Linked DNA regions of Homo sapiens. The protein of the gene in region 7 purifies or fractionates together with the protein of the main gene of each other region. This does not show direct contact. Each region holds a gene or a part of one and is shown on either strand. Other genes may lie near its edges. The genes, in order: ZFYVE19, NMNAT2, USP34, RAI14, MYO1E, MYO5B and UBE2V2.

Region 1 (3,532 bases), on a different chromosome or scaffold from region 7:
CCAGCACTTCCCAGAGCCAGGGACTGACACGACAAGACCAGATGATTGCTGAGCGCCTAGCACGACTCCGCCAGGAGAACAAGCCCAGTGAGCAGGGGCAGATGGGGTTGCCTAGAGGACACAGTCCAGGGCTTCTGGGACTGAGATGCCTCTGGCCCTTACAAGGCTCCCCCCATGCCAATTGCAGAGTTAGTCCCCTCACAGGCAGAGATAGAGGCACGGCTGGCTGCCCTAAAGGATGAACGTCAGGGTTCCATCCCTTCCACCCAGGAAATGGAGGCACGACTTGCAGCGTTGCAGGGCAGAGTTCTACCTTCTCAAACCCCCCAGCCGGTGAGTGTTATGGCTTAGGAGAGAAGCGGGGGTGCTAGCGGGAGGACCCAGCAGAAGCCCAGATACAGGTATTGGGGTGATACAAAAGTAATTGTGGTTTTTGTCATTACTTTTAATTGCAAAAACCTCAGTTACTTTTGCACCAACCTTTGTACTTTATGTACTTTGCAGGAGTTGGCAAAGCCTCCCACCCCTACCTCCTGATCCTCAGGCCTGCTACCAGACCCGGGGACCAGGGACAAACAGCACGATAGGGTAGGGCAGGAAAAAGTGGCCCCTCAGTCCTGTTGGGGACGGCCAGACCTACTTGATTATGTGGGCCCTGGATCCCTCTCCTTTCCCTGGGCTTTGAGAACTACTTAGCATCCATCCCTGACCTAGACTGCTTCTGGGCTACCCCTGCTCTCCACTGAGGTTTCCTCGTCTGTGCAGGCACATCACACACCGGACACCAGGACCCAAGCCCAGCAGACACAGGATCTGCTAACGCAGCTGGCAGCTGAGGTGGCTATCGATGAAAGCTGGAAAGGAGGAGGCCCAGGTAACCCCTCCACTTGGCTCCCTAGGAATCTGCCCTACCTCTTTCCCCAGACTGGAGAGGCTCTGCTGTCCACCCTCTGGGAGATGAATATAAATCGGAGAGTGATCAACGTTATAAGAGTTACCATTCATTGAGTGCTTACTCCAAAGGGAGCCAGTGTAAGCCTAGTGTTTAAGTGCACGGGCTTTAGAATCAGACAGTGATTCCCATTTCTACCACGTATTAGCTGTGTGATGCTGGACAAGTTACTTGACCTAAGTCTCACTTTCCTCATGTGTAAAATGAAGGTATGTATGGAAAAACCTACCTCACAGGGAAATCAGGAGGAGTAAACGAGATAATCCAATAAGTGCTTGGGAACATACCTGACTCATAGTGAGTACTCAGTGAATATTCTCTGCAATCATGATGTTGATAAGGAGGAAGAAGCTATTTAGTAAAACCAGCCACATCTCAATGCTCAGTAGCCATATGGGCTTCATGGCTACCATCTTGGACAGCACAGATATAGAACATGATATGGAATGTTTCCATCATCATAGAACATTCTGTTGGACAGTGCTGTTTGAAGGCTTCAGAGCAGTGGTTTTCAACAAAGGATGATTTTGCCCCCAGGCTACTTGTGGCAACATTTAGAGACTTTTTGGTTGTCACAACCCAGAGGATATTACTGGCACCTACAGGATAGAAGCCAGGGATGCTACTAAATCTACTATGTCACAGGACAGCACATCATGATGAAGAATTACCCGGTCCAAAGTGTCAAGAGAACTAAGATTGAGAAGTCCTGCTTTAGAGGCACAATCTCATTGAATATCCTCAATAATCTTATGAGGCCAGGTGTGGCTCACGCCTGTAATCCTAAGCACTTAAGGAGGCAGAGGCAGGAGGGAGGATAGCTTGAGCTGGGGAATTTAAGACCTGCCTGGGCAACATAGCAAGACTCTGTTTAAAAAAAAAATCTTATAAGGTACATACTATTCTTTTTTATAAATGAGGAAACAGGCCTGGTGAGCTTGAGGAACTTGACCAAGGTCACACAGCTATTAAGCTGCAGAGATGAGACTTAAACCTAAAGCTGTGATTTTAAACCTCTTGCTCTGAAACACTAAACTGAAGGTGACTGTGTCAGAGCCACACCTAATCTGGTAAAATTCTTCCTGCCCAGTGATATACAAGCTCTTAGCTTCCTTCATTGCCCTCTCTGTGCTAATCCCAGGAGATGCTAATTCCTGCCCTGAAAGGCAAAGAGATCGGCTGAACCTGGGCCTTATCATGTCTTGATCCTTTAGGGCAGTGATTCTCAAACCATAGGACGCCCACCCTTAGGGCAGAATGTTAAAATATCAGGTAGATGGGGATGGATGTGGTTGGAAAAGACATGGGTAAAATTATTAGTTTTTTACATTTGGAAAAATGGAGGAATACTAATTTTATTTGTGATAGAAACCATAGGCGCTAGTGCTGAGCAAAAAGCTGATGATCTGTGATTAGAAAGGGTTGAGAAAAGCTGGGCATGATGGCTCACGCCTGTAATCCCAGCACTTTGGGAGGCTGAGGCGGGTGGATCACGAGGTCAGGAGTTGGAGACCAGCCTGACCAACATGTTGAAACCCCGTCTCTACTAAAAATACAAAAATTAGCCGGGCATGGTGTCACGTGCCTGTAATCCCAGTTACTCAGGAGGCTGAGGCAGGAGAATCGCTTGAATCCAGGAGGCAGAGGTTGCAGTGAGCTGAGATTGCACCACTGCACTCCGGCCTGGGTGACAGAGCGAGACTCCATCTCAAAAAAAAAAAAAAAGAAAGAAAGAAAGAAAGAAAGAAAGAAAGAAAAAATTATTAAAGAAAAAGAAAAGAAAAGGTTGAGAAATGGGCTCATTGGCTTCTGAGGAGAGATACTGGGATGTCTCGGCCTTGCTGATGGCATTACCCCTTCCAGCTGCCTCTCTCCAGAATGATCTCAACCAGGGTGGCCCAGGGAGCACTAATTCCAAGAGGCAGGCCAACTGGTCCTTGGAGGAGGAGAAGAGCAGACTGCTGGCTGAGGCAGCACTTGAGTTGCGGGAGGAGAACACGAGGCAGGAACGGATTCTGGCCCTGGCCAAGCGACTAGCCATGCTGCGGGGACAGGACCCCGAGAGAGGTGAAGGCTGGGGAGCAGCTGCTCACTGGTATCCCTTGGTCAAGGCCTCCCTGGCAGGGCTGAGTCAGGTGCTGGGGGTATTTGCGCCCAGAGATCTACTGAGCCCAGCCCAGAGCCACAAGGAAGGTGGTAGAGCAAAGCAGTGGGTGAGGAGTCAGGGGCAGCCATGAGGGCAGGGGACCTTCAGTCCATTCAGGGGCTGAGGCTTTCGCTCCAGCCCCCAACCTAGCCCTCAGGCCTGCTTCAGTGATGGCCCAGCCCTGCAGGGCTGGGGCAGGCAGGGACAGGTCATCAGGGTGGCTGAAGAGGCTTCTCAGCTCTGGAATAAGTGCCCCTGGGAACCGAACCAGTTCTGGGAGGCAGGAGGGCAGCCACTCATGTGAAATCTCTCACTCTCACTCCCCCATCCCCTGTTCCCATGTCTCCCTCTTCAAGTGACCCTCCAGGACTATCGCCTCCCAGACAGTGATGACGACGAGGATGAGGAGACAGCCATCCAAAGAGTCCTGCAGC
Region 2 (4,284 bases), on a different chromosome or scaffold from region 7:
GGGCCCTTAGGGAGCCTGAGTTCAGGAATGGGAAATTGTCAAGGTGAGGGAACATTCCCTGAAAGGTAGTGAGGGTTCGCGGAAGTTAGTGGGAATGAAAGTGAGAGGCATTTCTGATTTTCTGGTCATGCTTCACCCAAAACCCAGTGATATTTCTGGAAGCTCCAAGAATCATGCCAGGATTCAGAGATGTCAAAGCAGATGAAACATTCAAGCACATTCTTTACATTCATGGGCCTCACAGTTTGGTTCAAAAATAAAGTTATAGGTATCCCTGGAGGTCTACTTATTGCCTCCACAAGGCTAATATCTTGCCCCTGCCTCCCCATCCTTTCAGGATCCAAATTACTGCTGGAACTCTTCTTTTTTCCCCACCCCACTCCCAGTAAGTCTCCGGGCCACTGCCTCTGGCATCTTCAGGCCAGTCCTACCTGATCCAATCAGAATTCTGGACGGCCAGCTGACACATGATGAGACGGTGCCGGCTTGACACGAGGCCCTGGGAAGCAACAGAGCAATCATTGGGAGACTCCCTCCGTTCCCCACAACATCCTTGGGATACCAGCCCAAGCCCACCCATTGTTAAAGTGCAGCCATTTTTCAGTGGTGAGAGGGAATGAAGAATGTGACCCCTTTACTTGTCCGTTTGCCACACAGGCAGGCCTGGAATGGTGGTGGGAAAGGAAACAAATAAAGGGTGTGTGGTATATACCACCCCAACAAGGTCGATAGATGAGCCTCCATTTGCGAAGCAGCCCCTGTGTGCCCTGCAGAGATGAGACTTAACTCAGCAAATGTGGCCTTGTCTTATGGCTCAGTCTGGCTGGTTAGGTGAGTTTCCCCAGAGCCCACCAAGGTGCATCTGTGGGAGAAAGGGGGAATGATGGGTGGAGCTCCTAGATTTGCCGGGACACGTGGCAGGGAGGGATGAGCAGGGATATGAATTTTAAATCAGATTATAAAAGGCATAGGCCGTTTTCTCCTAAAATCCTGAGAAGACTTGCCCAGTGCAGCTCAACCCATAACCAGCTGCCAATCTGGCATCCACCATACCAAGCCACACCCAGTGGGTGTTTCTGCTCCTCTTTCAGTGAGTCCTGACCAGCCCGTAAGTGGCTCTACGGTCATGGACAGCTGGTCTTTCCAGCTACTGCTTCAACGCCCATCCACTCAGGTCCGACTGTGGTCCTGAGATGGGAAGCAGGATAGACGCATGGACCTGGGCATTTTGTGTTTCCAGGAATCTTAGCAGAGACAGAGCGGGGGCAGTTTTTCTGCCAGGAACTATCAGGCCAGGGATGGGGGGACGGGGATTGAAGAGGAGAGGGGCACAGGAAGGAACCCACCTGTTTTCCATAGGAGTCGTGGACAGGGGAGACAATCCCGCCAATCACAATAAACCTTCCAGTTTTGTGCAGATAATCCCTGGCTCTTTCTAATTAAGAGAAGAAACCCACACATTATAAAGAGGAAAGGCATGGATTAAAGGTGATAATTGAAATCAATACGCTCAGCTCTGTAATGCTGGGGTTTATTTCCCATCTCTCTTGCCATTTAAATAGAAAATGTCAACTTTCAAAGCAAATGTTGGTGATTCAAAAGGTTACAGAACCAGATTTCAGCCCCCAAAGCAAAAGGATTTAGAACTCAAGGAGATTCATCCTGTTTTAAAAGTCCTCTGTGGGAGGAGCCAGTGTAGCTCAGAAGGATTTAAAACAAGCGCCTCATTAGCAGCCATTAGAGCTACAGATTGGAATTTACCCCTATTGTCACTTGCAGGAGTTATAATGTGGAGGAGTAGTATTTAAAAAATAAATAAATAAAAGCCTCCTTATAATATGAAAGATGTGCTGATTGCCTCATCTAATTATTCAGAAGAGAAAAACCACCAAAACAAATTTAAAGGGCCTTGTAGATAATTACAAAGAATTAGCAATCAACCCAGAAGACCACCATCTTAGACTTGGTTGAGACGAAAAATTTGGCCAGATAAAAGCCTTTTATCCTTTGGAAGGTATGCAATATTGCTTTTTCAAATCTATCAGACAAACCCAATTTTATTTTCGCAATAAATTTCGGCAAACAAGGAAGGGACTGAAAAGTCTGGTTCTATCTTACTTCCAAAACAATTCCTTTTAAGAATGTCAACAGGGGCCGGGTGTGGTGGCTCACACCTGTAATCCCAGTACTTTGGGAGGCCGAGGCAGGTGGATCACAAGGTCAGGAGTTCAAGACCAGCCTGGCCAACATGGTGAAACCCTTTTCTACTAAAAATACAAAACTTAGCCAGACGCGGTGGCAGGCGCCTGTAATCCTAGTTACTCGGGAGACTGAGGCAGGAGAATCGCTTGAACCCGGGCAGCAGAGATTGCAGTGAGCTGAGATCGTGCCACTGCACTCCAGCCTGGGTGACAGAGGGAGACTCCATCTAAAAACAAAACAAAACAAAACAAAAATTGTCAACAGGGCCTGAGCTTATTCCACTGAGGAAAAATCTAGCATGGAGTTTATAGTGAAGGAATTTTTAAGTAGAAGGCGGCCTGGGCAGCAAAGCTGGCTGTGTAGTTTACAAGCAAGTTTTCAGAATTACTTTGCTGGATTTCTTAACACTTGAAAAAAGATCTCACCATATTTGCTTCTTTTTCTTTCTTTCTTTGTTTTTTGAGACAAAGTCTCACGCTGTCACTTAGGCTGCAGTGCAGTGGTGCGATCTTGGCTCACTGCCACCTCTACCTCCTGGGTTCAAGCAATTCTCATGCCTCAGCCTCCCAAGTAGCTGAGATTACAGGCATGAGCCACCATGGTTGGCTAATTTTTGTATTTTTAGTAGAGACGGGTTCCACGTGTCGGCCAGGCTGGCCTCAAACTCCCGGCCTCAAGTGATCTGCCTGCCTTGGCCTCCCAAAATGCAAGGGTTACAGGCATGAGCCACGGCACTTGGCTGCTTCTTTTTCTTTCAATGTGAAATTTCTTAGATTAAAAAAAAAATGAATAGACTATTTGTAACACCGTTTTAGATTTACAGAATAATTGAGCAGATTGTACATAGACTTCCATATATTCAGACCCCTCCCACCTTTTTACCTCCCTTCATGCAGTTTCCCCCATTATATTAATAATTTTGCACTAGTGTGGCACACTTGTTATACTTGACAAATCATTATTAACACATTATTAACTATAGTCAATAGTTTACATTAAGATTTACTCTGTGTTGTAGAGTTCTGTGGGTTTTGACAATTGTATCCTTCATTATAGTATCATACCCAGTATTTTCATCCCCTAAAAATTCAGTGTTCCACCCATTCATGCCTCCTCTTTTCCCAAACCCCTGGCAACCACGGTTCTGTTTACTTTTTCTATAGATTTGACGTTTCCAAAATGCCATATGGTTGGAATCATACAGTATGTACCCTCTTTGGACTTGCTGTTTTCACTAAGCAGTATGCATTTAAAGTTCCTCCATGTCTTTTCATGGCTCGATAGCTCATTTCTTTCTTTTTCTTTGAGAGGAAGTCTCGCTCTTGTCCCCTAAGCTGGAGTGCAGTGGCGCCATCTCAGCTCACTGCAACCTCCGCCTCCCGGGCTTAAGCGATTCTCCTGCCTCAGCCTCCCAAGTAGTTGGGATTACAGGCGCCTACCACCATGCCCAGCTAATTTTTTGTATTTTTAGTAGAGATGGGGTTTCACTATGTTAGCCAAACTGGTCTCAAACTCCTGACCTCAGGAGATCCGCCTGCCACGGCCTCCCAAAGTGCTGGGATTACAGGCGTGAGCCACCGCGCCCGGCCGGCAGCTCATTTCTTTTAATCACTAAATGATAGTCTATTGTCTGGAAGTACTTCAGTTTATCCATTCATCTACCAAAGAACATCTTTGCTGCTTCCAGTTTTTAGTGATTATAAATAAAGCTGATATGACATTCATGTGCAGGTTTTTGTGAAGACGTAAATTAGGGAATCTACACAAGGAGCCATATGAATCATATGGTAAGATTATGTTTAGCTTTTTAAGAGGCTGTCAAATTGTCTTCCAAAGTGGTTGTGCCATTTTATATTCCTACCAGGAATGAATGAGACTTTCTGTTGCTCCAAATTCTTACCAGCATTTGGCATTATTTGGATTTTAATAAGTGTGTCACTCTGATAAGTGTGTCACATTTGCTTTTTTTTTTGATGGAGTCTAGCTCTGTTGCCCAGGCTGGAGTACAGTGGCATCATCTTGGCTCACTGCAACCTCCGCCTCCTGGGTTCAAGTGATTCTTGTGCCTCAGCCTCATAGGTA
Region 3 (4,284 bases), on a different chromosome or scaffold from region 7:
TGAGCCACTATGCCCAGCCTGGCTGATTTTTTTTTTTTTTTTTTAACCTTTAAAAATGTAAAAGCCAGCCGGATATGATGGCTCATGCCTGTACTCCCAGCACTTTCAAAGGCCAATGCAAGAGGATGAATTATGCCAGGAGTTTGAGACCAGCCTGGGCAACATGGCAAGACCCCATTTCTACAAAACTTTTTGAGAGAGTTTGCTCTGTCACCCAGACTGGAGTGCAGTTGCATAATCTTGGCTTACTGCAACCTCTGCCTTACGGGTTCAAGCAGTTCTCCTGCCTCAGCCTCCTGAATAGCTGGGATTACAGGTGTGTGCCACCACACCCAGCCAATTTTTGTATTTTTAGTAGAGACGGGGTTTCATTATTCTCCTGCCTCGGCCTCCCAAAGTGCCGGGATTACCAGCGTGAGTCACCATACCTGGCCCAAAACTTTTTTTTTTTTTTTTTTTGACAGAGTTTCACTCTTGTTGTCCAGGCTGGAGTGCAATGGCACGATCTCGGCTCACCGCAACCTCCGCCTGCCGCGTTCAAGCAATTCTCCTGCGTCAGCCTCCCAAGTAGCTGGGATTACAGGGATGTGCCACCACGCCCTGCTAGTTTTGTATTTTTACTAGAGACGGTTTCTCCATGTTGGTCAGGCTGGTTGCGAATTCCTGACCTCAGGTGATCCGCCCACCTTGGCCTCCCAAAGTGTTGGGATTACAGGCATGAGCCACTGCGCCTGGCCCCAAAATATTTTTTTAAGAAAATTGTCCCAGCCTGCAGTCTTAGCTACTACGGAGGCTAAGGTGTAAGGATCACTTGAGCACAGCGGTTCAAGGCTGCCCCTGATCTGTGATCACGCCACTGCACTCCAACCTGGGCAACAGAGTGAAGACACTGTCTGTCTCAAAGAAAAAGCCATTCTTAGCTCACAAGTCCATATAAAAACAGGCCATGGGTCAGATTTGGCCTGAGGGCCATAGTTTGCTAACCCTTCCTCTACTTTGATGAGTAATTAGGATACAGGAACATGGGAACGTAGGAACTCTCTTCCCTATAGCCACAGATGTGATGACATGTCCTTGTTTACCTATGTGTGTGGTGATACCGTGGTGGGTATATGCTGCCAAACACCAACCAGATTAGGTTAGGATAAAGGGGAAGTAGCATTTCCTTGCCTCTTGTGTCTAAAGGGACTCATCTTGACAGGAAAATAAATTGGCTTACCTGTGGAAGGGATCCTAGGCATCCTTGGTAAGTTCTGAGTGAGTGACCTGACTTGCCTGTGTAGGATGTTCTCAAGTCCTTGGTCTAACCCACGGTTTGGCAAATTACAACCCACATGCTGCCTGTTTTTGTATAACCATGGCTACCTGCTAGCTAAGAATAGTTTTCATATTTTTAAATTTTTTTTTAATATAGAATATTTTCTGACATGAAAATTATGAGATTCCCATTTCAGTGTTTGTAAAGTTTTACTGAAAGACAGCCACACCCATTTCCTTACTCTTGTCTAAGGCTGCCTTCACACTGCCTCAGCAGGGTTGAGCTGTGTTAACAGAGCATGGCCACAAAGCCTCAAACACTATTTGGCCCTTCCCAGAACAAGTTTGCTGACTCCTTGTCTAACTCAGTCTTTTCTTAACTGGAAGAGGATGGTCTGTGTTATATTTCTTCTTCTCCATGATTATACTTGCCCTGGGGACCCTAGGGGATGTGGAAGATGGGAAATTCATTTAGGACTGTGGTAATGAAGCTTCTGTACTTTCAGAGATAGGATGACAGAGGATAGGGGCACACATCTTAGTGACATATTTTACATCTGGAATAGTCAAGAAGTGGAGAAGTAAATTCATAGAGGTTCCAAATAGCACTCTCTGACATAGTGCCAGATGCGGTCCACTCAGAAGATCCTGGGAACAAGCCAAGAAACTGGTGTTAAGGGCCGCATTTACTTAAATGTACCACAAAGGTCATTCTATCTTTGAAGAAAGAAGGTAAAAGAGGAAAGATATGTTTAATTCTCCACTTTTTTTTTTTTTTTTTTTTTTTTACCTTTCCCCTCCTCCCTCCTGCAGTCTAGCCACCCTATGAAAATTATCTAATAGGCAGAGTGGTACCTTAATCCAAGAAAGATTTGGAGCCACTTGCAGTAACTTTTTCTTTTCCCAGATAAAGTTCTAATACTCAAAAAAGAAGAGTTGATTTAAGTCCCATATCCTTCAGGAATGAGGTATAGGATATAAATAAATTCAAAGTACCACATTCTAAGATATTTCACTAAACATTGGAATGAATTTTTCCCCTTTATGTACTTTAAAATATAGAAAATATGCAGTTATGACTAGAAATAGCTGTAATATTGTACCTGCAGAGTTGAGTATCTCACTAGTATAATTTATAATTATAACCTATTCTGATTTCTTTTCAAATATTAGGTGTCCTAGTTGCCTATGAAGGTTTGCCACTTCATCTTGCACTGTTCCCCAAACTTTGGACTGAGCTATGCCAGACTCAGGTAAAGAAAATGAGTTTTAGATGATTGGTCTTTAATCTTATCTGACCAAGTGGTCAATAATTTTAGGAACAGTGGGTTGAAGACTTGCTGAAAAGTGGGGACATTTTAGAATCTTGATAGGTAACATATGAATGAATGAAAATACTAGCTATTACATATTAGGCATCTAGTTTCCCTTTGATTTTTTTAACTTAAGTAGATTTCTATCATAGAGGATATTTTAAATAAGCTGGTTATAATTGAATTTCTCATTTATAGATGTATATCAACAGTTGTGGGGAAAATCCAAAACAGGGAGATAGTGGGGGAAAAGGCACTTGCCACTTCTTCCTCTCCTTCACCTCCCTGTCTCTACCTCTTTTCCACCATTCCAAAACCTCTAGCAGAAACCCTGTCAGCAGTCTGTCCTTTAGCTTTTCATAATCTGTAGTTTTTCAGGGGTCTGATGCACTTGTTTTCTTACAGCGATCTCCTTGAAAACAGGAAAGATTACTGTTCCTACCTTAAGTGTCTAAGAGCCAACTCCTTAAAATTAAGTGGCTGCATAAATAATGCTTGTTAAGTTACAAAGGCAGAATTGGGAAGAGGAGGAGGTACTAATGTTTGGCTCATTCCTTGGATCAGGCATAAAGGATCCCCACTACCTTTCAGTCCCTGAAAAAACTGTTGATTGTACTGCCTGGTTGCATCTGCTCTACCCCATTGGAAGAGATGAATTTATTCACCTTCCTTAGGTGCAACCCTTGACCCACATCATGCTTTCCTGAAGTATTTTGAGTCTGGTTCAGCCTCCTACCAGGCTGTAGTGTGCTCTGGATTCTCCTAGATGTTTGCCATCCTGTACTCTACTGGTGGTTTCTCTACTTTTCCAAAACAGAACTCAAGTGTAGAGACCTTATCAGAGTCATCTCCATCCCCTGAAGAAATGCCACGTTGTTCTCTACAGTAGAAATCTTTCAGAGGCTAGTATACACTGATCTTAGCTCACTTGACTTAGCATACAGTAGGCATTCAGAAAATGACTTTTATCAGTTGATTTTTGAGCTGAGTGTTCTGTTCAGTCAATTGGAGATCTCGTTTTCCCTCTCCACTGCTACTGCTGTTCTTTTTCATTCTTCCTGATTTGGGTAGTTTCTTGGTTTCTGTACTCTCCCACTACCTATTGCTCCCTATTGCTTTCTCTACTTCTGCATCGCAGGACTCCCTTCGCTTGACTTCTTTCACAGACAGAACTCACTGTGCCCCCAAATTTCCCTTAAAACAAAGCCTAACCATATAAGGCCTCCAAAGCTTCCAGTGCTATAGAAGCAGCCATCCTGAGCAAGAAACAGAGGCAGAGGCACAGGCTGTGACTGGTAGACCAAGGCAGGTTTTTCCTAGTGTTAAGGATCTCAAGACCTGGGTCTTGGTCCTACTTGAATCCTAATTTCTTGACTGACCTTGAGTAATTTACTTATGACAGCTGCATACTTTAATAAGATATACACATATGCATATATATATATATATAATCTAAATTTTGTCCTATTTAAAAAATATATTGCTTTTTTCCATATAAATTATTAAAATGCACATTTAAATCTATGGAGTGTATCTGCTTAAAGACATACTACTTGTGTTTAAGAGCCATGACTATTTGAAAACAGGAAAACCAAATTTTAGTAAAATTTCCATATATTGAGACCACTGATTCTGTGTGAGATAATTAGGAAAGAAGATTTATTGTTTACCCTTGCAGTGTTTATGGGGGGAAAAGGTATTTACAGAATTACTG
Region 4 (3,677 bases), on a different chromosome or scaffold from region 7:
TTTCTTTTCATATCCCAATTTTGCCTTATGAGGCGTTTCTGTCCATCAGAGATGACTGGTTTGGGTTTATCTCAGTTTCCTCTCCAGCTGAGTGTCCCCATGAAGTCACCTTCTGAGTTGTCTGGTTGGCCACAGTTGAAATAAAAGGTTCAGTTGAGTATCACACACATGCTTTCTTTGAAATAAAGTTTCAGGGTATAGTAGGAAGGCACAATGAAACTGAAGTAGAGGTGGAATCATGTTGTAAGTGAAGGGAAATGGCCTTGTTACATTGGAGTATGATAAACAATGCTAACTTCTTAAGTAGCTGTACCTATTTCATGTAATTTTGATTATGATTATAACCTGCAACAATTTTAATTATGATTTTAACCTTGCCAGAATTCACCTGACAAGAGTTTTGTCAGGAATTAATTGAATTGTCTTTGTAATGGGGCAGGAAAATGTATCTGGATTTTTTTTTTACATATGTATGTATTACTTTTTCAAAAAAAGCAAGAAGCAAGAGGGAAAAAAAATCCAGCGGAGGCTTCCAAACAGTTAAACAGACTGCAGATTAAATGAGAGGCAATTGTGAATTAAAGGCAACTGTGATTCAACTGCCCCAAAGCGGCTGATACTCAGGGCAGAGCTCAGGGCGAATCCAAGAGCTGGGAAAAGGAAATGATGTGAGACTTTGTGTGAGACAGTGCGGACAACTCATACCAGCTGAGCATAGCACAGACTAGAAAACCTATTACACTGAAATGCTATTGAACTGATCTTCAGAAGCCACGCAGATATGCTTCTGAATACACCAAAAATCAACACCAGAAATGCAAAATGAAACAAGTTTATTTTCTCCAATAACTTCTGTAAATTACAAAGACAAAATACTAAAAACTACAGCATATAACTTTTCAATATTTAACCAGAGTACTCGTAATAAATATGCATCCGGAAACAAGATAAAAGGCTACACCTCGTCAGGCATCCTACAAAAATGTCTCAAGTTTTATATACTCTGCAGCATTTCTGTGCGGGGGCAGAAGGGGCTGTTGTGTATTTTCTGAAGTGCTGTGACAAAAGGTCCTTTCACATTTCTTTGGAGCATTTTTGAAATTGCTTAACTATAATTAAACAACTTAAGAAAAGTAACACCAAGCTTTAAAGCCATTTTTGCTTTGCTGTCATTGGTCCTTATCCAATACAGATCAACATATCATCCAGCACAGCCAAGCACCCACTGAGGCCAAGCAGCCTTGTGGGACATGGGCCCTGTCAGAGCAGGCCCTACTTTCAGTTAAATACTTTGGAGAGTCCAGGATTCTGTCTCTCTCCCTCAACAAGATTAATGCCATAAGGGAAGTTGCAAGCGTGTTAGAAACATTTTTAACCTGAAAGTAAAGTGAACAGAAATATTTTTTTTCCGAGACCTCTGCTATGCACCATAATATTACCATATCAGGGTTTTTAGCTTCAAAGTTGAAAAACAGATTGGTACTAACAGTCCTTCTAGAGATCATTTATGGGCGCTGGTAGAGTCAGGGCATTCAAAACATTCAACGGGTAAAAGGAGGATTTGCTAGATTCAGAAATGCGCTACAATTCTGAAGACACCATGGCTGAAAGTTCTAGGGGTGTTGGTGGCAGCTCATATTAGGTCTGGCATACATAACTACCTTTTGCTATAGCTGAAAACTTTAAGGAAAAAGTTATATTTTTAAAAAGTCTCAAGCATGGCTACCTAAAAAGTATTTTGTTAATATAATCTACTGTAATTTCACTTATTTAGGAGTTCAGATATGAAAACATCTTTATGAGCCAATAAAAATATTACAGAGAAAAAAATACTTCTACAAAAGTTGAGGTTAAGAACTATGAGGCATTTCTTTTGGCTGTAAACACACAGTTTACTGTCCCTTGTTGAAACACAAATGTTTGGATTTCCTGAGCTTCACAGATAACAGCAGGAGGCAAGTTTGCATAGAAAATTTGCAGTATGTCAACAATTTACTTAAAAAAAGAACTTTTAAGGACAACTTGCTTTTGTTTTTAAGTTTCATATTTTAGTTAATAGTGCTCATCAAACTGAATATTGATAAGCAGGGTGATGAGATATATAAGGCAGATGGGAAGAAAACATGGAATTAGAGTTTTTAAATCCACAGGATATCATGATGAAGGGTTTTAAGCAGATACTTCATAACTAGTGCCATACTAATTTAGTTAGAAATTAAATCATGTTTTGGAATTGAAAGCCAAAGGCAAAAAGAGCTCTCCTGTGCTGAATGGCACTGCCCGAGTACAGGAATGGAAGGAGCATTCACTGCAGGAGGCCTCAGCACATCACTCGGTGGTGATAAAGCCACTCAGCCAGTCAGGGATGGAGGAGGGGGCCCCCCTGCCAGCATCAGGACCAGACCTCTGGGCATGGCTGATCCCAGCTCTGGAATCTGAAGGGATGACAGGGACTTTCACCTCTGCTGGTTTGAAGTCTCTAAGCAGTTCTGAGGCGGGCAGTCTTCTCCTGGGAGAAGTCCTCAGAAACCTTTGGAAAGGGAAGAAGCTACGCTAGGCCACAGTGCATACCACGAATGAGAACAATGGCAGCGGCTGCCGACAACTCTGGATCTAACACAAAGACAGATGACAAGGGGCAGTGTCCTGCCAAGGAATCCACTTTACTTCTTTTGAGACTGGTTTTTACACATGGTAAGGATTTGCTTCAGTACTTTCTGGACATCTTCATCCATCTGGCCCTAGGATATTCAAACACAAGATACTCATTAGAACCTAAATTAAGCCATGGCACTTTCTTCTCTGGGGAATGAGATGGCTGACTGCAATGAAGACCTGGGCTAATTCCCACATCTTTCACAGGAATGTCAGCCCTATCATTTCCCAAATTTCTATGAGGAACTGAGTCAAAGAAAGGGCCCTGCCTTTATCCAGCTGGAAGATGAGGTGGCAGTGTCTACCAAAACCCTCAGCAAAAGCTATCTGGGGTCTCAGTTGCAAATGTGAGTCCAGCAGCCAGAACACCAAGCATCATAGAGCCAAGGCAGCACTGGTAACTAAGAAGATCAGCATTGCTGGAAAATAAAGCCCCCGTCTTCCCAGTGGAGGACCACATCATCCCTCATTCCTCAATAAATGATGGGAGGGTGGGGCATGGTGGCTCATGCGTGTAATCTCAGCACTTTGGGAGGCCGAAGCGGGTGGATTGCTTGAGCTCAGGAGTTTGAGACCAGCCTGGGCAACATGGCAAAGCCCCATCTCTACAAAAATACAAAAATTTGCCAGGTACGGTGGTGGGTACCTGTAATCCCACCTACTTGGGAGGCTAAGGTGGGAGGATCACTTGAGCCCGTGGGTCGAGGCTGCAGTGAGGCGAGATTATGCCATTACACTCCAGCCTGCATGACAGAGTGAGGCCCTGCTTTAAAAGATGGGGCTGTTCCTGGTAAACAGGGCACAAGGCTCCTGACACAGAATCCAAAGCAATGCAAAAGGCATATTCAGGCTTTCCAGTGAAAAGGATTCTCCTCTAATTCTTGTTCATTCTCCTAGTTAAATGATGGGAGTTCTGTCAACATCTGCTGCCGTATTTCTTTAGGATGTCCAGATACTTCAAGGGGCATAACCATACCTGCACAGCATACAGAAGATGCATTCTGTAAACTGATATGACCTCC
Region 5 (4,284 bases), on a different chromosome or scaffold from region 7:
GTGACACCTATGCATATTGATACCATATTATCAAACAAGCCACATGTATTTCTCTTCCAATGAACATTTAGATTGTTCCTGTTTTGTTTGTTCTCGTGATCTGCGGAATGTTTATTTGTTATTATAAACACTGTCAGGGAAAAGGTCAGTAGCTTCCAACATATTCTCAGAGGACTCAGGACATTCTCCCATCCAAATGTTAGGAATCTCTGATAATCTGATGTGGAGAAAGGGCACTGTCATCATTTTGCATTGATGCATATTTCTGCATTACAGCATTCCCAAGCCTTGAAGGAAGCTATCTTTACTTACATTCTTAAAATAGCTTATTAGATTCTTCTGCATTTAAATCTAAAATTTTCTATAAGGTCTGCATCTTCCTAGGACACCAAAAACAGCCCTATTATTTTTTCATTGAAAATTTCTTAGAATCAGATAATACTGTCCAAAATATTCTGTGACCATGTAATGTTATCCTAAATTGCTGTCAACATCAAATGGTGGTCACACCGAAGAAATTATTAGGAGACTAACAATGTGATATTCTAATTTTGTTGTTGTATTCTGTAATGTATTTAAGAATTAAACAACTAAATCTCTGTTGTTCTCACATTTTCCTATTTTCTATTTTTTTTAATCCTAGTTAAGATTAGAGAGCCTTCTAGTATGACTTTCTTTTTTTTTTTTTTTTTGAGACGGAGTCTCGCTGTGTCACCCAGGCTGGAATGCAGTGGCACGATCTCGGCTCACTGCAAGCTCCGCCTCCCAGGCTCACGCCATTCTCCCACCTCAGCCTCCTGAGTAGCTGGGACTACTGGTGCCCACCACCATGCCTGGCTAATTTTTTTTGCATTGTTAGTAGAGACGGGGTTTCACCATGTTAGCCAGGATGGTCTCGATCTCCTGACCTCGTGATCCACCCGCCTCGGCCTCCCAAGGTGCTGGGATTACAGGCGTGAGCCACCATGCCCGGCCAGTATTACTTTCTTTTACTTTTATGCTTGCTCTCACTATGACATCTTCTAGTCTCTATGGCAAAGTCCCAAAGCAAGGAAATTAAAACTCAGAACACTACTACTCATAACAGACAATGTTCTTAAGTCTAAATTATCCCCTCTGGTATTACTGAATAAAATCAACCAAAATTGGTGATTTTCTATCAGCCTTACCTTCCCTCAGGAGTATGTGAAATAATGAAAAAGTATACAAATACGTGGACTCGGCATTGTCAAATTTAGAAATAATTTATTGAACCACTTTTCAAAGAGCATGGACTTAGCAGATCTGGCTGGTCACATACAAATTGTGTGGCCCTAAGTAATTCCCCTCCCCTCACTACACTTTGATTTTCTTACCTGTAAAATGGCAATAAAAACCAACACTGGTGCTAGAATGAAATGAAATCATGTATATGGAAGCCTTTTGTTATCATTTCTCCACTATATGGGGAGCTTCTCATAAGCAGAGGCAGAGAGACTAATTCATCTTTTTGGAGACGGAATCTTGCTCTGTCGCCCAGACTGGAGTGCAGTGGCAAGATCTTGGTTCACCACAACCTCTGCCTCCCATTTCAAGCGATTCTCCTGCCTCAGCCTCCCGAGTAGCTGGGATTACAGGTGCCCGCCACCCCACCCAGCTAATTTTTTTGTATTTTTAGTAGAGACGGGGGTTTTGACATGTTGGCCAGGCTGGTCTCGAACTCCTGACCTCAAGTGATCTGCCCTCCTCGGCCTCCCAAAGTGCTGGGATAACAGGCCTGAGCCACCATGCCCAGCTCTAATTCACCAAGCCTGTATGCTAACCTCCTTTGCCATGGCAATGTCTTCTCTCCACTTTGAGGTTCAAAGCTCTCCATCTCCATCCACTCCCGTTCTCTGGTAAGACCACTCATATTTGCCAAGGAAGACCTAGAGGTCTGAGTACCCACTGGTGTCACATATTTGAGTGTCAACGCCAGAATCCAGGGGGAGCACCAATGGTAGGTACCTTTGGGCTAGAACCTGGGAATGTGGAGTATGCATCCCAAGCTCACCCAAAGAGGGGGCTTCTTATCTCAGGAGCCAAAGATTAAGCAGCCCATTACTGACCACAGCGGTTCTAGTGGGTGGAAGGAGGAACTCTCCCCTGTACACACTTCTGGAGGAAGTCTCCATACAGTTATGACACACAGTGAGTAATCCGGCTACATGGGATTATAATACTGCCACCAAAATATAACAAATATGCTTATCAAGAAAAAGGATTTGTAAAACAAGTGGAAAAATAACAGAACACAAATTGTATATTTGCCCCATAATTACAACCACATAAAAACAATGTGTTTGAGGCCCGGTGTGGTGGCTCATGCCTATAATCCCAGCACTTTGGGAGGTCAAGGTGGGTCACTTGAGGCCAGGAGTTCAAGACCAGCCTGGCCAACATGGTGAAACCCTGTCCCTACTAAAAATAAAACAGTTGGCCGGGCATGGTAGTGTGTACCTATAATCCCAGCTACTCAGGAGGTTGAGGCAGGAGAATCGCTTGAAACTGGGAGGCAGAAGGAGGTTACAGTGAGCCGAGATTATGCCACTGCACTCCAGCCTGGGCGACAGAGTGAGACTCCATCTCAAGAAAAACAAACAAACAAAGAAACAATGCATTTGAACAGACTGAAAGGAAACCCAGAGACAAAAATAATTACTGTGTTAGGGTGTGGGGGTACTTTGGGTGAATTATTCTAAATTTCTTTTTCTTTTTTTTTTTCTTTTTTGAGATGTGCCCCAGGCTGTAGTGCAATGGTGTGATCTCGGCTCACTGCAACCTCGGCCTCCCAGGTTCAAGCAGTTCTCCTGCCTCAGCCTCCCAAGTAGCTGAGATTACAGGTGCCTGCCACCACACTCGGCTAATTTTTTATTTTTAGTAGAGACAGGGTTTCACCATGTTGGCCAGGCTGGTCTCGGACTTCTGACCTCAGGTGATCCCTCCACCTCAGCCTTCCAAAGTGCTGGGATTACGGGCGTTAGCCACCGCGCCCGGCTGAATTCTTCTAAATTTCTTATAATGAAGTTAGTACAGTAACCTTCCACCTACAAGCAGACTTTCTTGAAAAGTCCCAGAAAGAAAACTATCTGGTCACGTCCAGACTCTTAAAGAATTATTCCCACCACTGTTTGGTAAGAAAAACCTTATTAGACTGGGATCTAATAAGGTTAGATCTGCACTGGATCAGATCTAACTTGGATTCTGGCACCAGCTCAGCTAAAAACTAGCTATGAGACTTTGGAAGTAATTTAACCTCTCTAGATCTCTCTGTGAAGTTAACAAATGGATTTAGGATAGAATTTTTAAGCTCTCTTCTGGGCTTTCTACAATGTAGCCTATGTTTTACTTTCTATAATGTAACGTATGACCATAAAGTGCTATAAATGAATTTGTAACAAACATTATCAGAGCTCAAAAGACCCAAGAGAGTGTGCCTCCTTCAGAGCAGTTCTTATACTTATTCCAGGAAAAAGGGACCTGCTGGATACTGCATATCTTTAGTGGGGCTAATTGTTCCGCCTTTGAGGCACAATGTAACTTCTGGAAACACCTGAGAGGGATGTAATACAAAGTCTGGTGAGTAATAGGAATGATCACACTGGGCACTAAGGAGTTAAAAAATAAAAAATAAGGCCCTCCCTCCTTCCCTCTTCTTCCCTTCTTTCTCTCTTTTGAGACAGAGTTTCACTCTTGTTGCCCAGGCTGGAGTGCAATGGCGTGATCTAGGCTCACTGCAACCTCCGCCTCCCAAGTTCAAGTGATTCTCTCTGCCTCAGCCTCCCAAGTAGCTGCGATTACAGGCATGCACCACCACACCTGGCTACTTTTGTATTTTTAGTAGAGACGGGGTTTCACCAGGTTGGCCAAGCTGGTCTCAAACTCCTGACCTCAGGTGATCTGCCCACCTCGGCCCCCCAAAGTGCTGGGATTACAGGCGTGAACCACAGGGCCCAGCCCTGTCTCTTTCTTTTTTTTCTCTCTCTCTCTTTCTCTCTCTCTCTCTCACTCTCACCCAGGCTGCAGTGCCACAGTTACAGCTCACTGCATACTTGAACTCCTCAGTTCAAGAAATCCTCCCACCTCAGCCTCCCAAGTAGCTGGGACTATAGTGCATGACACCACACGTGGCTAATTTTTAAAATTTTTTTTGGTAAAGGCCTGAACGACCACACCCGGCAAAAAAATAGGTTTTATTACATAGCTCATAAATGACCATTCAAAAGTGCTTTGAACAACGGCAATGACGTCATTCTCATGGTGGTA
Region 6 (4,284 bases), on a different chromosome or scaffold from region 7:
TTTAAGTTAGCTGGGCATGGTGTCGCATGCCTGTTCCCAGCTACTTGGGAGGCTGAGGTGGGAGGATTGCTTGAGCCTAGGAGATTGAGGCTGTAGTGAGCCATGATTGCACCACCACACACACTCCAGCCTGGGTGACAGAATGAGACCCTGTCTCAAAAAAATAAAAAATATAGAGTAGTCATTTAAATGAGCAAAAACAGTTATAAATAATGCCAGTTAATACAAACAAGAAATATAAGGAAAACAACACATTGTTCCCAGTGATCAATAATGTAGAGCCTACCAAGCATGTGAACAGAGGCTCAACCCTCCAATGAAAGTCAACTTTAAAACATGTGTAAAACATTTAGTATGAATAAGAATTTAAAAAAAAAAAAAGAGAGAGAGAGAGAAAGAACAATGACCCGAACTTAGAGTGGCGAAGAAACAGACTGGTTCTCTTGTGGTGGCTATTGGCCATATCAATGAAGACTATAAATGTGCATGCCAGCAATTCCAGCTTTAGGAATTTATTCTGAGAAAATAAATGAGGTTACAAGAACAATCTTTCACAGTATCAAAAGATTAACAATTTATTAGTATGTTCAAAAAAGCTAGAAGATAGGATCTTGAATGTTTCTAATGCAAAGAAATGATAAATGTTTGAGGTGGTGGATAACCTAATTGCCCGATTTAATCATTATACATTGTATACGTGTATTAAAAAAATCACTTGAACCCCATAAATTTGTGCAATTATTACTGTCAACAAAAAACAAAAGGAAAATAATTGGAACCAACCTAAATGCTCATCAGCATGGGAATGGTTAAACACATTACAGTATATGGCATCAGATCTTGGCAATTTAAAAAATGTATATTTTTAAGAAAAAATTACAGTACATCCATATGCTGCCTTGTGCAGCCATTAAAAATGGCAAAATTGCCTTTGTAGGCTACAGGAAAAGATAGCCATAGATTAAGATTTAGAGTAATAGACATGGCATGATCCCATTTGTTTTGAGTACATATTGTGCATAAGTCTAAAGCAGCACTGCCCAAGAGAAACAGAATGCAAACTACAACTGTGAGCCACCTGTGGTACTTTAAATTTTCTAATAACCACATTTAAAAGGTGAATTGAACAGAATATTTTAGCCAATATATAAATAACAATCACTTCAACACATAACCAATATAAGAAGTATGAAGGATATTTCGCATACATTTTTCTAAGTCTTGGAAACCCAGTGTGTACAGTACTGCACGCTTCCAGCTCATCCCAAGCTGGGCCAGCCTCATCGCAAGTGCTCAGCAGCCACATGCAGTTACCCTGTTGGACAACGGAGGTCCAGAGAACATGCCTAAGTGGTCAAGAGCAGCTGTTTCTGGGAATGAGACTACAGAGCTTTTGTCTTTCCTGCATTGTATGGATTGTTTCAATAATCATTTGTATTCACAGAGGGAAAACAGAAGCATTGTGAAAAATGCTTTTTAATTTTCCTTTAAAGCTATAATAAGAGACCAGAAAGCACAGGTTAAACTTAAAACTTCTTTCAGACTGCTCTTGCTCCTTCCCCAGGGGTGGTGGGGAGTACCATATCTTGTCTACCGCTCTCATAGTTCATGTTTGTAGCAATCCTACTTCCTCTTTCACCAAGTCTCCTTGTGATCAAGACCCCTTCAGGACAGCAGGGAAGGGTTAGGGGAAAAAACATGCTAGCCACATAATGCTGACTGCCACCCAGCATGGTGACTGGAGGGAGAAGCAAACTAATGAACAGTTGCCAACACTATGTTAGACAAGCACTTCACATGGATTAGGATTATAAGCCTCCAGTAACCTTCCCATGGTGCAGGTACCACCCCAATTCTTCAGATAAAGAAATCAAGGCTTAGAAAGTATCTGTTCCAATGTGTCGGAGCTGAGAGCGCCACAATATCCAGGGTGTCCACCTCAAGATCATAGTCACAAAGGCCTTGGAAATGCCCATACCAAGCTCCTGATCTTACCCTTATTAACACCATGCTATCAGACAACTGCATTTCTTCATTAAAGAAAAGCAAATCCCAGGCATCATTTGCAAGAACCCCAGATCCTGACATTTCTCCTCTAAGCTCTTTCGTAAATCTCCAAATGTAAATAAATGCTTTCACTTAGACAAACCATTTTCATCCCAAACCCAACATGTCAAAAATCAAGAATTATCCCTGCTCCAACCTGACTTCTGTCCACACTCAAGGTGGATATTTCAAGTTCATAGTTGACTCTTCTACTTCCCTTGCCCTTAATAAAACATTTATTGAGTTCTAGTCTCTGTAATTTCTACATAACTACAAAAAGTAGTAATGAGTACACCTAGCAACCAGATCTTCATTTCTAAATTCCATTCTTCAATAAAAGGAAACTGACAGGCATCAGCTTAACCAAGGGATCAAAGTGATCCGTCAGTAACAGGACACATTGATATCACTGTCTCCTGAGGTGATGCAGTGAGAAAGGCACAGCATTTATGATGTGTTCTTGCCCAAAAGTCACAACCTCCATGTAAGCATAAGACAGTCTGACAAACCCAAAATCATTCTACAAAATTATTGAGAAATGCTTTTTTTGGGGGGGTGGGCGGTGGGCAGACAGGGTCTCACTCTGTCACCCAGCCTGGAGTGCAGTGGCACAATCACAGCTCACTGCTACCTCAACTCCCAGGCTCAAGCAATCCTCCCACCTCGGCCTCCAGAGTAGCTAGGACCACAGGTGCATGCCATCACACCCAGCTAATTTTTTCTATTTTTTGTAGAGATGAGGTCTCGCTATGTTGTCCAGGCTAGTCTCGAACTCCTGGGTTTAAGGGATCCTCCCATCTTGGCCTCCCAAAGTGCTAGGATTACAGGTGTGAGTGACTGTGCCTGGCTTGACCAATGTTCTTCAAGTGTCAAGGTCATGAAAGACAAAAAACTGAGCAACTGTCACTAGAGGGGGGCAGGGAGCTACAACCCTAAAGGCAATGTGGAACCCTAAACAGGATCCTGGCCCAGAAAAAGAACATTAGTGAAAAAGGTGGTAAAATTCCGGTGAGCTTTATAGACCAGTTAGTAGTATTACAGAAATGTTAACCTCCTGGTTTCAATAATTGCACTATGGTTATATGACATGTTAACACTGGAGCAATCTGGAAAAATATAGAAACTGCACTATTTTTGCAATGTTTCTGTAAGTGTATATTTCAAAATAGTTAAAAATAGTGCTATAATTATCCCCATATACATCTAGCTCATACCTGTCCCTATGCTTAAACTCACTCTCCCCTGTCTCCTCCTGAGAGAACATCCTTCTTTACAGCCTCCTCATGCATTTCAAATCCTATTCATTCTTTAGGCCCCAGTCATGTCCCACTACACCTTAAAGGAAGCCTTTCCCGCAATACTGTAGCCCACCAGACCAACACTTCTACAAAATGCCTGTAACTTGTAGAGGAGTATGTGCACTCCTCTAATGACACACAGATAATCCTGTATTGTTAGTGTACTTTGTGTATTTAGCTTTTATCACCAAACACACTGAAGGCTCCTAAAAACATCTGGTATGGCCTCTGTTCTCCAGAATCTCAGCCTACTTAGATAAAGCATCACATAAAAACTATCAACAAGGCTGAGGTGGGTAGATCATGAGGTCAAGAGATTGAGACCATCCTGGCCAACATGGTAAAACCCCGTCTCTACTAAAAATACAAAAAGTAGCCGGGAGTGGTGGCACACACCTGTAGTCCCAGATACTCAGGAGGCTGAGGCCGCAGAATCACTCGAACCCAGGAGGCAGAGGTTGCAGTGAGCTGAGATCGTTCCACTGCACTCTAGACTGGTGACACAGTGAGACTCTGTCATAAAAAAAAAAAAAAAAAAAAAAAAAAAAAAAACACACACACCTATCAACAAAGGAGGGCAGGGCAAGAGCCTGCTCAATGATTACAGGTTACAGGCCATTGGAATATGCCACATCCACAAGTCACAAGTACAAACTTCAAAATTCTGATGATCGCCAACATGGTGAAGCAGGATCCACTGGGCTTATAGGCCCATCTGAAAACGGGGAGCAGAGGATCAACGGAATTGGAACTAGGGATGAGAGAAGAAAAAAACCACATGCAAGACAGAGAATGAGCCTCAGAAGGAAAGTGACAGCATGACACACAACCTCCATGCTTCTTTTCAGCCTTTCCTGGGACCATAGAGGGGCCAAAGCCCTTGAGATTCTCAACATCCACTAAGCTAAGCCACCATGAGTTATGGTTAACTTGGGCTCCT
Region 7 (4,284 bases):
TATTTAGAATCTGTCATTTGTACTGATTTTTTCTCCCTTACTAAACTGCAAAACTTTGATGGCAATGACCATATCAACCTTCCTCCCCCCAATCCTCTACGTAATCGAGCATTATATCCTGCACGTGGGAAGCATCAATAAATGTAAACAAAATAAAAAGGAACTATTTTAGAAGTTATCATAATTGCTTATTTTAATATCAATAGTATAAAATTAAATGCTAACTTTAACAATAAGTATTAATAGAAAAAATATAATTTATAACACTGACCCTTGGTGGCCCAATAATCATGCCTGTCCACCTTGTAAGTGTCATATCTTCATCATCTTCAAGGCCCCAGCTAACTGTACCGTCGCCTACTCCTTTTTGTCCTTCTTCAAGTTCTTCCAACAAGCGAAAATTACGAGGAACTTTAACTCCTATACAAAAGAACGTCAGTGTAAATGTAAAAAGCTCATAATTATAAGAGCTACACGTATTTAAATTCAGCTTTTTCCAAATTAACCTTTATAAATTATTTCCCAAAAAGACCAAATCCCCTTTAAAAAGCATTCTGCTCCAGAAAATGCTGAATCTAATAACCCCTCAAAATGAAAACACTAAAGAAAGCACTGTACCAAACATTAACAGCAGTATACAACGTGTATATAAATTCCTCATCAATTTTATACTGATGTAAGTCAATCAACCATAAGGAAATCGTTTTCCCTATTTGATGTTTCTGTTACAGCCAAGGACTCTGCACCAATCAAACAGGCATGCCCAGAAAGTTCATAGAAGCCAAAGTTCATTAATATATACTCTCTAATGATTTTCAAAGAGTAGAATTATGTTCCATCTTAGAAAGTGCACCAGAAGGTACTGTCTTTTAGAATCCTGAAGCAGTCCCACCCAACCTGTCTCAAAAAAAAAAAAAAAAGAATGAGGAGTGAACCTTCATGTGAGGGGCATGTGAAAACAGAATCTGTCAGAGAGTAAACAGACCATGGACTTCTAAAGCAAATTCACACATCAAAGTTCAAATAATGGTGCAAAACCACCTCCTGTGAACAACTGACTTGGCTTTCAGTATGTCTCTTTAAAGAAAACATTATCATTTTATATGAGTTTCTTAAATGCTATTGGTAATATGGAGTTTAATTTTATGCACCTTAGATAATACATTTTTTAATGTGTTTGTGAGATTTTCATGGATGGTTTTTCAAAATTCCTAATTTTAGTTAGTAAGGATTTGACTTTGGGAAGACAGAAAACCTTTCAAGTAAAATGAATAGGCTTATATACATAAAGAAACTTCTTAATGAATTTAAAAGTGATCCTGTGAAAAACATAATTCCAGTGACATGGATGCCTAAATTTAAAAGAGTGGATACGGCTGGGCCTGTAATCCCAGCACTTTGGGAGGCCGAGGCAGGCAGATCACCTGAGATTGGGAGTTCGTGACCAGCCTGACCAACATGGAGGAACCCCATCTCTATTAGAAATACGAAATTAGCCGGGCATGGTGGCACATGCCTGGAATCCCAGCTACTCGGGAGGCTGAGGCAGGAGAATCGCTTGAACCCGGGAGGTGGAGGTTGCGGTGAGCCAAGATCACACCATTGCACACCAGCCTGGGCAACAAGAGAGAAATTCCATTTAAAAAAAAAAAAAAGAAGAGTGTTTACACAAGTAAAGTGTGTCTGCTTTTTAAGAGTTTATTCAGTTTAGGAAGGGGAGTCAAAATTTGTACTTGATTTCAATTTATTGTTATCTGAAATTGAAAGTATTCCTACCTTTTTTTGCTTTCGTGTATATGCAAAGGTAAATATTTATTAATCAAACCTTATAAATTTGAGGTGATTTTAGCCTGATTTCTCAGAACTTTTAATTTGTCTGTGTAGAAATGGGTTTACTAAATATTTTTAGACAATTTCTTAAGTATCTACTTTTATTTGCATACAGTAAGTTAGGAAAGACATTTAATGTTCCTCATACACCTGCTGTGTTATTTTGTGTGTGTGAGACAGAGTCTCGCTCTGTAGCCGAGCCAACCTCCACCTCCCAGGTTCAAGCTATTCTCCTGCCTCAGCCTCTCAAATAGCTGGGATTACAGGCGTGCAACACCATGCCCGGCTAATTTTTGTATTTTTAGTAAAGATGGAGTTTCACCGTGTTGGCCAGACTGGTCTGGAACATTTAATGTTCCAGAGGCGGAGGCTGCAGTGAGCCGAGATCGCACCACTGCACTCCAGCCTAGACGACAGAGCGAGACTCTGTCTTAAAAAAAAAAAAAAAACAACAAAAAAGGCCGGGCACAGTGGCTCACGCCTGTAATCCCAGCACTTTGGGAGGCCGAGGTGGGCAGATCACGAGGTCAGGAGATCGAGACCATCCTGGCTAACACGGTGAAACCCTGTCTCTAGTAAAAATACAAAAAATTAGCCAGGCGTGGTGGCGGGCGCCTGTAGTCCCAGCTACTCGGGAGGCTGAGGCAGGAGAATGGTGTGAACCCAGGAGGCAGAGCTTGCAGTGAGCCGAGATCGCACCACTGCACTCCAGCCTGGGTGACAGAGTGAGACTCTGTCTCACACACACACACACACAAAAAAAAAAAAAAAAAAAAAACCCAGCCTGGCCAACATGATGAAACCCCATCTCTACTAAAAATACAAAAATAAGCCAGGCATGCTGGTGCACACCTGTAATCCCAACCAGCTACTTGGAAGGCTGCTGCAGAATCGCTTGAACCCAGGAGGTGGAGGCTGAAGTGAGCCGAGATCAAGCCCCTGCCCGGGAGACAGAGCGAGACTGTCTCAAAAACAAAAACAAAACAAAAAAAGAAAAAACAGAGGGGACACTTTCCTAGATTTTAAGACTTCCTCATCAGCTAAAGAAATCATTAAGAAAATATGGAATCAGTACAGAAATGGACAGACTAATGAAAAAGAAAAGCCCCAAAGCAGACATATCATATATGAAAATGTGCTTCTTAGTAGAGGCAACACTAAAAGTCAGTAAAGAGAATAGAGGCATGACAACCAAATGCAATCTTGGTATCAGGAAAAATATTATTATCATTATTTTGCTTTAAAGAACAGTAGTGGTGAAATCTGAATAGGGCTGGTAGATAATAGTCCTCTATCAACATTAATTTCCTGATTTTGATAATTCTATTGTAAGAAAATGTCCTAGTTGAAGAATGTAGGGGTGAAGAGACAGTATCTGTTAACTTACCCTTGAATGGTTCCCCCAAAAAACAAAATCGAATGTGAAGGGAGGGGGGAAGAGAGAGTACACACAAGAGCAAGCAAAAATGTTAAACATCAACATTTGATGGATCTGCATGAAGGTATATGGGAATCCTTCGTACTACTTATGTTAACTTTTCTGCAAATCTGAAGTTATTTCAAAAGAAAAAAAAAAAAAAAAGTAGAAAAGGCTGGGCATGGTGGCGGCTCACACTTGTAAACCCAGCATTTTGGGAGGCAAAGGTAGGCCAATCAACTGAGCCCAGGAGTTGGAAACCAGCCTGGGCAACATGGCAAGACCCCATCTCTACAAAAAATACAAAAATTAGCCAGGTGTGGTAGCTGGCACATGCCTGTGGTCCCAGCTATTCAGAAGGTGGGGATCACCTGAGCCCAGGGAGGTCAAGACTGCAGTGATCTGTGATCACACCACTGCACTCCAGCCTGGGCCACAGAGTGAAACCCTGTCTCAAAAGAGAAGGAAAAAAAAAGTAGGAAAAGTTAATGGTGTTGGAACACTTTACCAATATGAAAAAATAAAATTAGAACCCAATCTGATCTCATAGTATACATAAAAATCAATTATAGGCAGATTAAATGAAAAGATAAGCCACAGACTGAAAAAGGATGTGAATAACATATAGAAGACAAGAACGTTATTCAAAATACAGAAATAATTCCTCCTAGAAATCAACAAGGAAAAGAAAACCCTAGAGAACAATGAGAACATATTAGGAATAAGGTTTACAGAAAACAGTAATGACCAACAAACATAAAAATATGTTCAACCTCATCAGTAATCAGGGAATCATAACGGCTTATTCTAGCCACCAAACTGACAAATACTAAGTCTGATAATTCTTGATCTGGGCAAACGTGTAGATATTGGAAGTTCATTCACTGCTGAGATTAGAATAAACTGGTATAGAAGCTATAAATAAACATAGTTTTTATACATATATACATATGTAGCAAAAAGTATAAAGGTGTTAGTGGAAAAGATATTTAAAAATCAGGGGTCGGGCGAGGCACGGTGGCTCACGCCAGTAATCC

What was found.
Region 1: the proteins of UBE2V2 (region 7) and ZFYVE19 fractionate together in Homo sapiens (co-fractionation; one large-scale study listed by BioGRID). This does not show direct contact.
Region 2: the proteins of UBE2V2 (region 7) and NMNAT2 purify together in Homo sapiens (co-immunoprecipitation; one large-scale study listed by IntAct). This does not show direct contact.
Region 3: the proteins of UBE2V2 (region 7) and USP34 fractionate together in Homo sapiens (co-fractionation; one large-scale study listed by BioGRID). This does not show direct contact.
Region 4: the proteins of UBE2V2 (region 7) and RAI14 purify together in Homo sapiens (affinity purification with mass spectrometry; one large-scale study listed by BioGRID and IntAct). This does not show direct contact.
Region 5: the proteins of UBE2V2 (region 7) and MYO1E purify together in Homo sapiens (affinity purification with mass spectrometry; one large-scale study listed by BioGRID and IntAct). This does not show direct contact.
Region 6: the proteins of UBE2V2 (region 7) and MYO5B purify together in Homo sapiens (affinity purification with mass spectrometry; one large-scale study listed by BioGRID and IntAct). This does not show direct contact.

Annotation. Positions count from the first base shown.
Region 1 is NC_000015.10:40,809,884-40,813,415, forward strand, and holds part of ZFYVE19 (abscission/NoCut checkpoint regulator), read left to right. Parts: coding exon 1-87; intron 88-187; coding exon 188-333; intron 334-504; coding exon of another isoform or gene 505-587; exon of another isoform or gene 588-588; intron 589-765; coding exon 766-874; intron 875-2,815; coding exon 2,816-3,019; intron 3,020-3,454; coding exon 3,455-3,532. UniProt on the Homo sapiens protein: Key regulator of abscission step in cytokinesis: part of the cytokinesis checkpoint, a process required to delay abscission to prevent both premature resolution of intercellular chromosome bridges and accumulation of DNA damage.
Region 2 is NC_000001.11:183,292,359-183,296,642, forward strand, and holds part of NMNAT2 (nicotinamide/nicotinic acid mononucleotide adenylyltransferase 2), read right to left. Parts: intron 1,436-4,284; coding exon 1,347-1,435; intron 500-1,346; coding exon 432-499; intron 1-431.
Region 3 is NC_000002.12:61,191,127-61,195,410, reverse strand, and holds part of USP34 (ubiquitin carboxyl-terminal hydrolase 34), read left to right. Parts: intron 1-2,430; coding exon 2,431-2,510; intron 2,511-4,284. UniProt on the Homo sapiens protein: Ubiquitin hydrolase that can remove conjugated ubiquitin from AXIN1 and AXIN2, thereby acting as a regulator of Wnt signaling pathway.
Region 4 is NC_000005.10:34,829,752-34,833,428, reverse strand, and holds the end of RAI14 (ankycorbin), read right to left. Parts: coding exon 3,632-3,677; intron 2,742-3,631; coding exon 2,664-2,741; 3' UTR 817-2,663; downstream 1-816. UniProt on the Homo sapiens protein: Plays a role in actin regulation at the ectoplasmic specialization, a type of cell junction specific to testis. Important for establishment of sperm polarity and normal spermatid adhesion.
Region 5 is NC_000015.10:59,362,302-59,366,585, forward strand, and holds part of MYO1E (unconventional myosin-Ie), read right to left. Parts: intron 1-4,284. UniProt on the Homo sapiens protein: Actin-based motor molecule with ATPase activity. Unconventional myosins serve in intracellular movements. Their highly divergent tails bind to membranous compartments, which are then moved relative to actin filaments.
Region 6 is NC_000018.10:50,184,922-50,189,205, forward strand, and holds part of MYO5B (unconventional myosin-Vb), read right to left. Parts: intron 1-4,284. UniProt on the Homo sapiens protein: May be involved in vesicular trafficking via its association with the CART complex. The CART complex is necessary for efficient transferrin receptor recycling but not for EGFR degradation.
Region 7 is NC_000008.11:48,039,169-48,043,452, reverse strand, and holds part of UBE2V2 (ubiquitin-conjugating enzyme E2 variant 2), read right to left. Parts: intron 421-4,284; coding exon 272-420; intron 1-271. UniProt on the Homo sapiens protein: Has no ubiquitin ligase activity on its own. The UBE2V2/UBE2N heterodimer catalyzes the synthesis of non-canonical poly-ubiquitin chains that are linked through 'Lys-63'. This type of poly-ubiquitination does not lead to protein degradation by the proteasome.